Homo sapiens: one gene and its partners. The protein of the gene in region 2 purifies or fractionates together with the protein of the main gene of each other region. This does not show direct contact. Each region holds a gene or a part of one and is shown on either strand. Other genes may lie near its edges.

Evidence for each region.
Region 1: the proteins of ELOVL5 (region 2) and RRP36 purify together in Homo sapiens (affinity purification with mass spectrometry; one large-scale study listed by BioGRID and IntAct). This does not show direct contact.
Region 3: the proteins of ELOVL5 (region 2) and CMKLR1 purify together in Homo sapiens (co-immunoprecipitation; one large-scale study listed by IntAct). This does not show direct contact.

The regions. Positions count from the first base shown.
Region 1 is NC_000006.12:43,027,205-43,030,099, forward strand, and holds the end of RRP36 (ribosomal RNA processing protein 36 homolog), read left to right. Parts: coding exon 1-48; intron 49-155; coding exon 156-273; intron 274-1,887; coding exon 1,888-2,024; 3' UTR 2,025-2,395; downstream 2,396-2,895. UniProt on the Homo sapiens protein: Involved in the early processing steps of the pre-rRNA in the maturation pathway leading to the 18S rRNA.
Region 2 is NC_000006.12:53,279,399-53,283,054, reverse strand, and holds part of ELOVL5 (very long chain fatty acid elongase 5), read left to right. Parts: intron 1-3,656. UniProt on the Homo sapiens protein: Catalyzes the first and rate-limiting reaction of the four reactions that constitute the long-chain fatty acids elongation cycle.
Region 3 is NC_000012.12:108,290,906-108,294,444, forward strand, and holds part of CMKLR1 (chemerin-like receptor 1), read right to left. Parts: intron 2,760-3,539; 5' UTR 2,687-2,759; coding exon 2,684-2,686; intron 2,055-2,683; coding exon 936-2,054; 3' UTR 1-935. UniProt on the Homo sapiens protein: Receptor for the chemoattractant adipokine chemerin/RARRES2 and for the omega-3 fatty acid derived molecule resolvin E1.

The DNA of each region.
Region 1 (2,895 bases), about 10 Mb from region 2:
CTTTCAGGAGAGGAGCATGAGAAACTGCAGCAACTGCTTCAGCGAATGGTGAGTGGGTAATAATTGTGGTGGGTAATGAAAGCAATTAAAGGTGGGAGATATTCACAGATCTGAACAGATCCCTCCCGTTCACCCATCTCATCTTTGCTCCTCAGGAGCAGCAAGAAATGGCACAGCAGGAACGAAAGCAACAGCAGGAGCTGCACCTGGCCCTGAAGCAAGAACGTCGGGCTCAGGCCCAGCAGGGCCATCGGCCATACTTCCTGAAAAAATGTGAGTTGGGCACAACTGTTGCTAACAGGGACAGGGGTGCAGGGGCCATGGTGGTAGAGTCTTGTGTTGGGGTGTCCCTGATCCCCTTTAAGGAAGGCATGAAGGCTGGATCCCATGGTAACTTGGAGGAAAGTAGAAATAGTAGGGAGTTGTTTGTAACCAGTCTTGTATCCCTAATTAGATCATGGCAGGCATTGTCACCTTTATTTCTTGGTCTACACTCCCCACTTCCCAACCCCCCCCCCCCAACACACACACAGTGAGTTTTATCTCTTGGTCTACACTACACACACACACACACACACACACACACACACACACAAACACAGAGTCAGTTTTATCTCTTGGTCTACACACACACACACACACAATCAGTTTTATCTCTTGGTCTATACTACACACACACACAGAGTTTTATCTCTTGGTCTACACACACACACACACAATCAGTTTTGTTTCTTGGTCTACACTGCACACACACACATGCACACACGCTGGGCCAGGCACATAGGTGTTCATAGTTGGTTGAATTGAGTAGTACTGAGATCATATAAAAAGTCATCAGTTGGGCTGGGCACGGTGGCTCACGCCTATAATCCCAGCACTATGGGAGGCCAGTGTGGGGGGGTCACGAGGTCAGGAGTTCGAGACCAGCCTGGGGGCCAACATGGTGAAACCCTGTCTCTACTAAAGATATAAAAAAATTAGCCGGGCCTGGTGGCGTGCACCTGTAATCCAGCTACTCAGGAGGCTGAGGCAGGAGGATCACTTGAGCCCGGGAGGTGGAGGTTGCAGAAAGCCTAGATTGCACTGTTGTACTCCAGCCTGGGCAACAGCGTGAGACTCCATCTCACAGGAAAAACAAACAAACAAAAAAAAGTCACCAGTTGGGCCGGGCGCAGTGCCTCACACCTGTAATCCCAGCACTTTGGGAGGCCAAGGAGGGCAGATCACGAGGTCAGGAGTTCAAGACCAGCCTGGCAAACATGGTGAAACCCCGTCTCTACTAAAAATACAAAAATTAGCTGGGTGTGGTGCTGTGCATCTGTAATCCCAGCTACTCAGAAGGCTGAGGCAGGAGAATCGCTTGAATCTGGGAGGCGGAGGTTGCAGTGAGCTGAAATCGTGCCACAGCACTTCAGCCTGGGTGACAGAGTGAGACTCCATCTCAAAAAAAAAAAGTCACCCGTTGGCCAGGCGCAGTGGCTCACGCCTGTAATCCCAGCACTTTGGGAGGCTGAGGAGAGCGGATCACCTGAGGTCAGGAGTTCGAGACCAGCCTGGCCAACATGGCGTAACCCTGTTTCTACTAAAAATACAAAAAAATTAGCCATATGTGGTGGTGCGCGCCTGTAATCCCAGCTACTCCGGAGGCTGAGGCAGGAGAATCACTTGAATCTAGAAGACGGAGGTTGCAGTGAGCCGAGATCGCGTCACTGCACTCCAGCCTGGGTAACAGAGCAGGACTCCGTCTCAGAAAAAAGATAGAGGGGCACCAGTGAGCTTTAAAGAACTCATGTATCCAGCATAATGGCTTGGAGTTACTGACCTGGTTTGGGAAAGAATAGGGGCTTCCTTCTTTGTTCACCAACTTTCATTCTCCCTGTCATTTAGCTGAGCAGCGCCAGTTGGCACTAGCTGAGAAGTTCAAGGAGCTGAAACGCAGCAAGAAATTGGAGAACTTCTTGAGTCGAAAGAGGCGACGAAATGCAGGCAAGGACAGGAGACATCTCCCTTTGAGCAAAGAGTAATAAGGAACTATCCTCTGCTCTGCCACTGCCCCAGGGAGACATGGATCTGTGAGGACAGATTTGGCCACGGCTGGTTTCCGTTCAAGGGCAAGGATCACAGCTGCCCTTGAATCTCATTGCCTCAGAGAAGACTAGAGGGCTCTTGGACTATCCCTAGGGCTACACAAGAATAGTTCAGCCTTCTGCCATGCCACACAGCCTCAGCTTGAATCTGGTTCATTGCGTCCTCGTGTTCTTCTCTCATCCTTGCCTTAAACCAGGGATTCTGATACCGAAGAAGAGGGGCCAATGAAAACCATGGAGTCTGTTCGTGACTCCCAGGGCTGGGACATTATGTAGGAGCCACTTCATAAACATTCTCTTTACTCATCTTTTTATTCTGTTTTTTGTGGCCTTCTTTTTGTGTTTCCCCCCCGAAACAGAGTCTCGCTCTGTCACCCAGGCTAGAGTACAGTGGTGCAATCTCGCCTCACTGCAACCTCCACCTCCCAGGTTCAAGTGATTCTTGTGCCTCAGCCTCCCGAGTAGCTGACATCCGCCACCAAGCCCAGCTAATTTCTTTCGTATTTTTAGTAGAGATAGAGTTTTGCCATGTTGGCTAGTTTGATCTTAAACTCTTGGCCTCAAGTGATCTGCCTGCCTCAGACTCCCAAAGTGCTGGGATTACAGGCGTTGAGCCACCGTTCCGGCCTTAAGGCCTCTGCTTTTATGTGGGATTTGTGGGTAGCCTAGAACTACTTTTTAGTGGGCCACATATTGGGATAGGCAATAAAGCCTAAGGCATCTACAACTGGGAAGTCAGATCAGAAACCCCTCCCACTTAAATCTGGGCCCCTCAAGGATGACAAGATCATTTAGTGGGTGAACCAAT
Region 2 (3,656 bases):
TTTTTTATTGGAAAGATGAAAGAAGTTGAGCATTTGGTGACTGAATGCTTTGTTTGTGCTTTCTAACCTCTGTAATTGTGGGCTGTGAAAGCATCTCCCCAGGCTCTGGGTTTGAAGGCCATCTGATGGAACCACAGAGCAGTTGCTTTGGAAACATAATATTCTAAACTGGTTGTTTTTCTTTCCCTTCAGGCTTTCCTAAAATAGATACGTTATTGTGGGAAAATAGGATTTGGAAAAACACTTAAGCAACCTGGCAATTGATTATTGAATTTTATTTGAAAAATAACTTTGTTTACCAAAATACTTTGAAAAGGCTATTTGCTGTTCTTTTTCCCATTTAGCAGAGGTATAGAGCAGTTGAAACATCTGGTGAAATTAGTACTTACAAGAAATGCCTGATCATTGCCTAGAATACTTTTCACTCTTAGTTTCCTTACAACTAAAATTCCTTGCTGAGAAAGAAACTTCTCTCAGGGCCTGAAAGGAAACAGTTAGTTGTCCCTAGTGTATCTGACACTGCCCTGAGAGAATGCCTCACGGTAGGGAGAATGGAGAGAAGGATGCAGCTCAAACATCCTTCATTCCTCACCCACACCCAGGGGAGGGGAAGGGAATACTTTCTACAGAGAGGAAGCCTTCTGGCTTGTCCAGAGCCAGGCCTCACTCCTCTAAACTTGCCCCTGCAACACCTGGAGAGCTTGGCTCTGCAGCTGGTGTAGCTAGGAGCACATCACTCTACAGATCCTCAACTAAAGTGGACTTAACTCTGCAAAGCAGGCGTCAGTGGGTAGGCTGGAGACCTTCCTTTAAATGACACAAATTATACTTTGGCTGGGACATCCAGCACCACCTTAGCCCTAGTTGGAAGCAAAAGTACTTAACATTTGCCTAAGATCATAGCAAAGACAGATAGTGCCTACCTTATGTCAGGTATTGGGCTAACTAATCTAATGCTTATTGCACTCTTACCATCTGCTTTCTACAGAGGGAAAGTTCTGGGAGGCCTGAACAGGGAGAACTGCTAGCATAAGAGGGCAGGGCTTGAGGATTCAGGGAAAATGCCAGACATACCTGTTTCAGTTTGGATTGAGGACAGGCTGTTTCTTTGTGTTTTGTTTTAAAGACTTCTCAAGTGTACAGAACCTGTCTTTTTTAACTTAGCCAAGAGTGTTACGTTCAGCTATAACCCAGGGGTATTCCTGTTCACAAGGAGAAGGAAAAAAAAAAAACACCTGTGGAGGTCATGGGTGTGAAATTATCTTAATGGGCATCCTTATGCTCTGGACATGAAAGATTTGAAATGTAAAAACCACATGCTTTGACCTGGCACTCCCTAATAGCACTGCGAAAATTGGCCAACTAAACCCTAGAGGAAATAGGTACTTTCAATTTTGAGTAGTTCATGGTTAATTTTAAACCAAACATCTGCGGAAGAAAAAGATGCAGTTAAAGGTCTGCTTTTCCACAGAATTCTTCATGGACAGAGTATCCCTACCATGTTCTTACTAAGAATTCAAAAACAGATGAAGAAGGGCAAAGATGCTTGGAACTGCTGTTTGAGGTGCATTTGGACTGAGAGTCAGGATTCCTTTGTGCTAATCCCAGTGGTACCAAGACCTGGGCCATCCTTATCACTTCTCATTCCCTGTTTTCTCATTAAAAATACGAGCTTGTACCAGATCTAAAAAATACACAGTTGAGGACTCACACAGAAACAAAGCTATGAAGAGGGTCAACCCTACGTATTCTTGGAGATTTTGCTTAGAAAAGCACCTTAGGTCCTGTGATGTAGTTGAACTTGAGTATGGATAGTCTATTTTTCATTACTTTTTACCCCATTTCTGCATAGGAGGTAGTAAACATGCAGCTTCATCAAGCTCTTATCACCAGAAGCAGCCAGTCTTCTTTGGAAAGGGGTTATCTTGTTGCTCTGACATCTTGGGATGCTGATGTTAATGGCTGATAAGGGCCACCCAAGATGATGTTTTCCTCCTTTTTCTTTAAGTGTTTCCAGTGACCTTGTTTCCTGAGATGTTTCAGTAGCATTCCAGAAAGTGCCATGGAAATGGTTATTATGCTAAAGGTTACAAGTTGTTTGTGGTTAAATGTGTTATTAGATGGGAAAAGTCAACTCACCGTTAAAAATGATTCACTCCTGGCTGGGTGCAGGGGCTCACACCTGGAATCCCAGCACTTTGGGTGGCCAAGGCAAGCAGATCACTGGAGCTCAGGAGTTTAAGACCAGCCTGCGCAACATGGTGAAACCCCATCTTTACAACAAAAATATAAAAATTAGCCGGGCATGACAGCGTGCACCTGTAGTCTCAGCTACTTGGGAGGCTGAGGTAGGAGGATGGCTTGAGCCCAGGAAGTGGAGGTTGCAGTGAGCTGAGATTGTGCCACTGCACACCAGCCTGAGCAACACAGCCAGGCCCTGTCTCAAAGAAAAAAGATTCACTCCATGAATTATGTCATCCAGAACCAGGTGTGAAACTCACCTACATTTTTTTCTTTCATTGAAAAGGTGCATGAAACCATCAGGGTTATTGACTTTATCTCATATGGAGAAAAGAGCTTGTAGCTAGGTTTTAATTATAGCTCTGCACATCCTCTTGGCCTAATTAAAGTTTGCTTTACTCCAAGGAAGGAGGAAGTGTATAAAGCTTTGCAGTGGTACTGTTTGTATCTCAGTTCCTCAGAAAAAAGCCTGCAAATAATGCCCCTGGGTGGTTCTTGGAGTTGGCAGTGGTATGGAAAATTTCGTTAGGTAGTGGTTAGCTGTTTGTGATGGCCTGCTTTTTCATTATAGTATAGTCCTGTCCTCTTTCGATCTGATTCTCAGAAGCCCAAGGTAGACAGACACCTGCCCCTATTTTCAGTACTTCACCTTCTCCAGCCTACTGGGTCCTCTCACCCTGTGGTGTCTACTTAACACGCAACTTGAAGAATTTCTGGGAAATTGACCAAAACAGCTCTTTGGAAAGAAGCTAGGCCTCAGTCCCAAAGGGAAAGGTGGCTGATGTGACTTTGACTTGAGGATTGTCTCCTGTGATGTGCTCCTAGTGGGGCTACAGGGGTCAGTCCTTTGCTTTGAGCACCTCTGTAGTCCACTACCCATGGACACATTGCTATCCTCTGAGGGGGATGGAGGGAGTAGAGCCCTCTACTGCTAGCCCATTTTATGGAGGTTTGATGAGGGTCTTAGGTGAATAAGCTTCAACTCAGGTCCTTGGTCTTGGTTTGTTAAATTATTCTATCCTTTCTGAAGCCAGGGAGATTTGAGAATTTCCATGACCCCATTATGAAATTGATGATGAAGAGTTTTCATCTTGTGAACAGAGTTCAGATGAATATGATCACAAAGTCAAGCCTCGTTTAAAATACTATGAAGCTCTCTTTATTGCTGCACATGAAACATTAGGCCTAGATTTAGGGGAAAGAATTGGCAGTCTTGAACTCTTTGTCATTTGTTTAGCAAATATTTGTTTGACATCTCTGGTACGCTAATCCCTGTGCTGGAATATGTTGATGCAGATGCAGGAGCCACAGTCACCACCCTTCGAAATCTTACAGAAGAGCACACAACAGGCCCATTAACAAAGGGAGCATGTGAGCAAACAGCTACAGGTCACTGCAAGGTGAGGGTAGAGGAA
Region 3 (3,539 bases), on a different chromosome or scaffold from region 2:
GTTTTATTCTAAGCACCTCCAGCCAGAGCTGAGTGGATTAGGAAAGGCAGAAAAAAATCCCTGTGATGGGGTGAGGGCTGCTGGTGAAGATGCCTGCCACAACCCCACCCCCAGGTAAGAGGGGCAAGGTGAGATCAGGGGCTGGCACCACCCTGACGCCCCAAATAGCTCCAGCCTAAAGCACCATCAGCCTGCGATGTTCTAGGGTGAGCTGCTCCATGCCTGCATCCTTTAAAGGTTCTTTTCTCCTTTCTCATTTCTTTGCCAAATCTCAAGTCCTCGTTGCATCCCTCACTTGTCTTGCCCTTGCAAAGAGCCCACAGGACCTCTCAGGACCAGTTCTCTGTCTTCCTAGCTGATCCGAAAGCCAAATTCATGGCCTATGGAGTTCATGGGCTGATATGTCACCTTCCTCTCCCAGATCACCTATGCATTTCCACATACTTTAACACAGAGCAGTGACTTGAAGGTAGGGTTTTCTGGCCAGCTACTGATAATATATATACAAGGGCCAAGTGTGATCTGCATCACACTGGGTTTGCTCTGACCCCCTCACTGCTCACACCAGGAATGGACCTTGGAGAGTGTCATTTCTGGGGCACACACAATAGGCAGCTTAATCCCACCGCCCTATGCCAATCCCAGTTCATGGCAATGCTTTTGAGAATTCTTCCTTTTTTGCTTTGAGTCAGTCAAGGCTGGCCTCCCAAGAAGCATAAATTGCTAGTCCAAGGCTGTATGGAACACAGCATGTTCTGTCCACTAGAAGAAAGGGGTTCCAGGCCCTAGATTCCCAGCATAAAACACTGTTCATCCCATGCAAAATGCAGTGAAAATTGGTGGATGCTAAAGAGGTTCTTGCCTTGATCTTCAGAAGACATATCCTTGGGTGTCCCTGGGTTGAGAGAGTCCATTGAGGGGTTCCACAGTGAGGATCAAAGCATGCCGGTCTCCCTCTCATTCATAGAAGTCCTCTCATTCATTGATGACATCTTGGTAAAGCTTCTATGGCTGGGGTAGGAAGAGTGGCCTGTATCTTCACTTAGAGCATTGACCAGGCGAGAGAAGAGGGCCACCTTGAACTTCTTGAAGTCCTGACCCATGAAAACATACAGAATGGGGTTCATGCAGCTGTTGGCAATGGCAAGGGCAGTGGCCAGGGGCAAACCCAGGCTGAAGACAGAGCCAGGCATGGCAGTGTGGTGGAGCTCTAGGAGGTTGAGTGTGTGGTAGGGGCACCAGCAGAGGAAGAAGGTAATGATGATGGTCACAATAATCTTGAAGGGCTTCTTGGTCTTGGCCAGGCGGTTGCGCTGCAGTTTGCACACGATGGTGAGGTAGCAAGCTGTGATGATGAGGACTGGGACCAGGAAGCCACAGAGGAAGCGGGTGACAGTCACCACCATGTGCCGGCTATACCCCACAGGGTCCATTTGGGAGTGAGTGGGCCACGAGGAAGACCCAGGTGTGGACAGGCTGAAGTTGTTGAAGCAGGATATTTTCCCATGCAGGTTGGCTGTGTCCCGGAAGACGAGAGATGGGGAACTCAAGAAGAAAGCCAGGACCCAGATGACCATGCAGGCCATGTAAGCCAGGCGAACGCTGCGGTGGTTCTGGGACCAGACAGGGAGGAGCACAGAGATGCAGCGGTCAGAGCTGATGATGGTCAGCAGGAAGACGCTGGTGAACATGTTGTGGATGAGAAGGAAGTTGCTGATCTTGCACATGGCTGTCCCGAAAACCCAGTGGTAGTCCATGGCGGCATAGGTGATATGGATTGGGAGGAAGACGTTGAACAGGAAATCTGCCACTGCCAGGTTGAGGAACCAGACCATGTTCACTGTCTTCTTCATCTTGAAGGTGGCAATGATGATCACCAGACCATTGCCCAGAATCCCGAGGAAGCAGACGATGCTGTAGACCACCACCAGGAAGATCCTGGTCACCCTGGCTTCCAAGGGGGATAAGTCCTCCAAAACCACAATGGAGTCTAAATAATCAGGGTATTCATCACCGTAACTGATGGAAGTGTTGTAATCTTCATCCTCCATTCTCTGCAAGAGAAGACAGGGACCATTAGAGGAACCCTAGAGTTGGCTTTAAGAGGTTGACCAATACCAGCAAGACCAACAATGTTCCCCCTGACTCTGAGCAAGTCCAGTTTTGTGATTTAACCATTTCCTTCTTTGCTATTTTATTTATTGAACAAATGCCTCTCTGGTACCTCCTACATGCCAGGCACTATTGCATTCTACACTCTCTTAATCTTCACAGTAACTCAATGAGGTAGGTAGGTTATGAGCCTCAACTTACAAATGAGGAAACTGAGTCACAGAGAGCTTATGTCATTTGCCTGAAGTCCTACAGCTAGGAAAAGGCAGACCTGTGATTTGAATCCAAGCTTCAGAGTCTATCCTTTTGACAACCATGTTTTCTGTCTGCTTGGGGCCCTGTCTTCCTCTAGAGCCTAGTGGGGGAGACAATTGTTCATCAAAAAGTCCCTCAAATAATGGGAACATTGCAATAATGCTAAGTGCAATGAAGAAGAGGTACATGGTGCTGTGAACTTGATTCCAACATGCTTCTAAAACCAAGTGGACAGCCTTGTTGTGATCCCCCTGTGCACCCAATCTGTCAGTGGTCACTGGTGCCCTTTGGAGTTCAGACCACAAGACTTCCTCACCATTCACCGTTATGTTGTCTGCAGCTCTCCAATGTGAGTCCTCAGCCAATCAGTCCCTGTACACAGCTAGAAACACCTGTAGGGAAAAAAAAAAAAAAAAAAGCAGCAATTGGATCCAGGTCTAAGAACCAGAGGGTTGAGTGGACCCAGCCAGAAATAAGATCTGTTGTTCTTATTCCCATTTTACAGAGAAGGAAGCAGAAGTTCAGAAAGGCTGTTATTCAGCCAAGGTTATGCAGCCAGGAAGGGATGGAGCCCCTTGAACCTAGGTCAACTGACTCTTCCCAGGTCAAGTGCTGGACTCTTCATTCTAACCACTCCCCTCTCCCAGCACATCCCTAGCTGACAGCTGGAGTCGGGCATGAGTAAAGGAAGACACAGAGGAGGTACATGGATGGCTCAATCCACTACCAGGTCGGGACTCAACTCCACTACCAGGGCAGGACCCACAAAATACTGTTTTAGGAAGTGTGAGCACAGAGAAAACAGGAGAAGACCCACACAGAGTACCTGCTATGTGCCAAGAACTTTTATTCTTTCTTGTTATTTAGTCTTCCTTGGGACTTTTCCAGGCAGGTGTTATTCCTTTTGTGTTAAGAAATAGAGAGACTGAGGCTCAGAGAAAGAAGCATCATTCTTGCTGGATATTCTCTGGGCCCTATGGGAACCATGAATGAGATGCAGGCTCTGAAGCCACAGCAGTCTGGTGTGAAGACAGACACAAATATATCCACTGAGCCTCCGCTGTGCAGACAACTTAAGTGGCACTTTAAACAAGCCCCATAACAATCTTGCTGAGTATTTTTCCAGTCTATGGAAGAACAAACATATTCTGAGGAGTTTGCAAGTTTGCAAG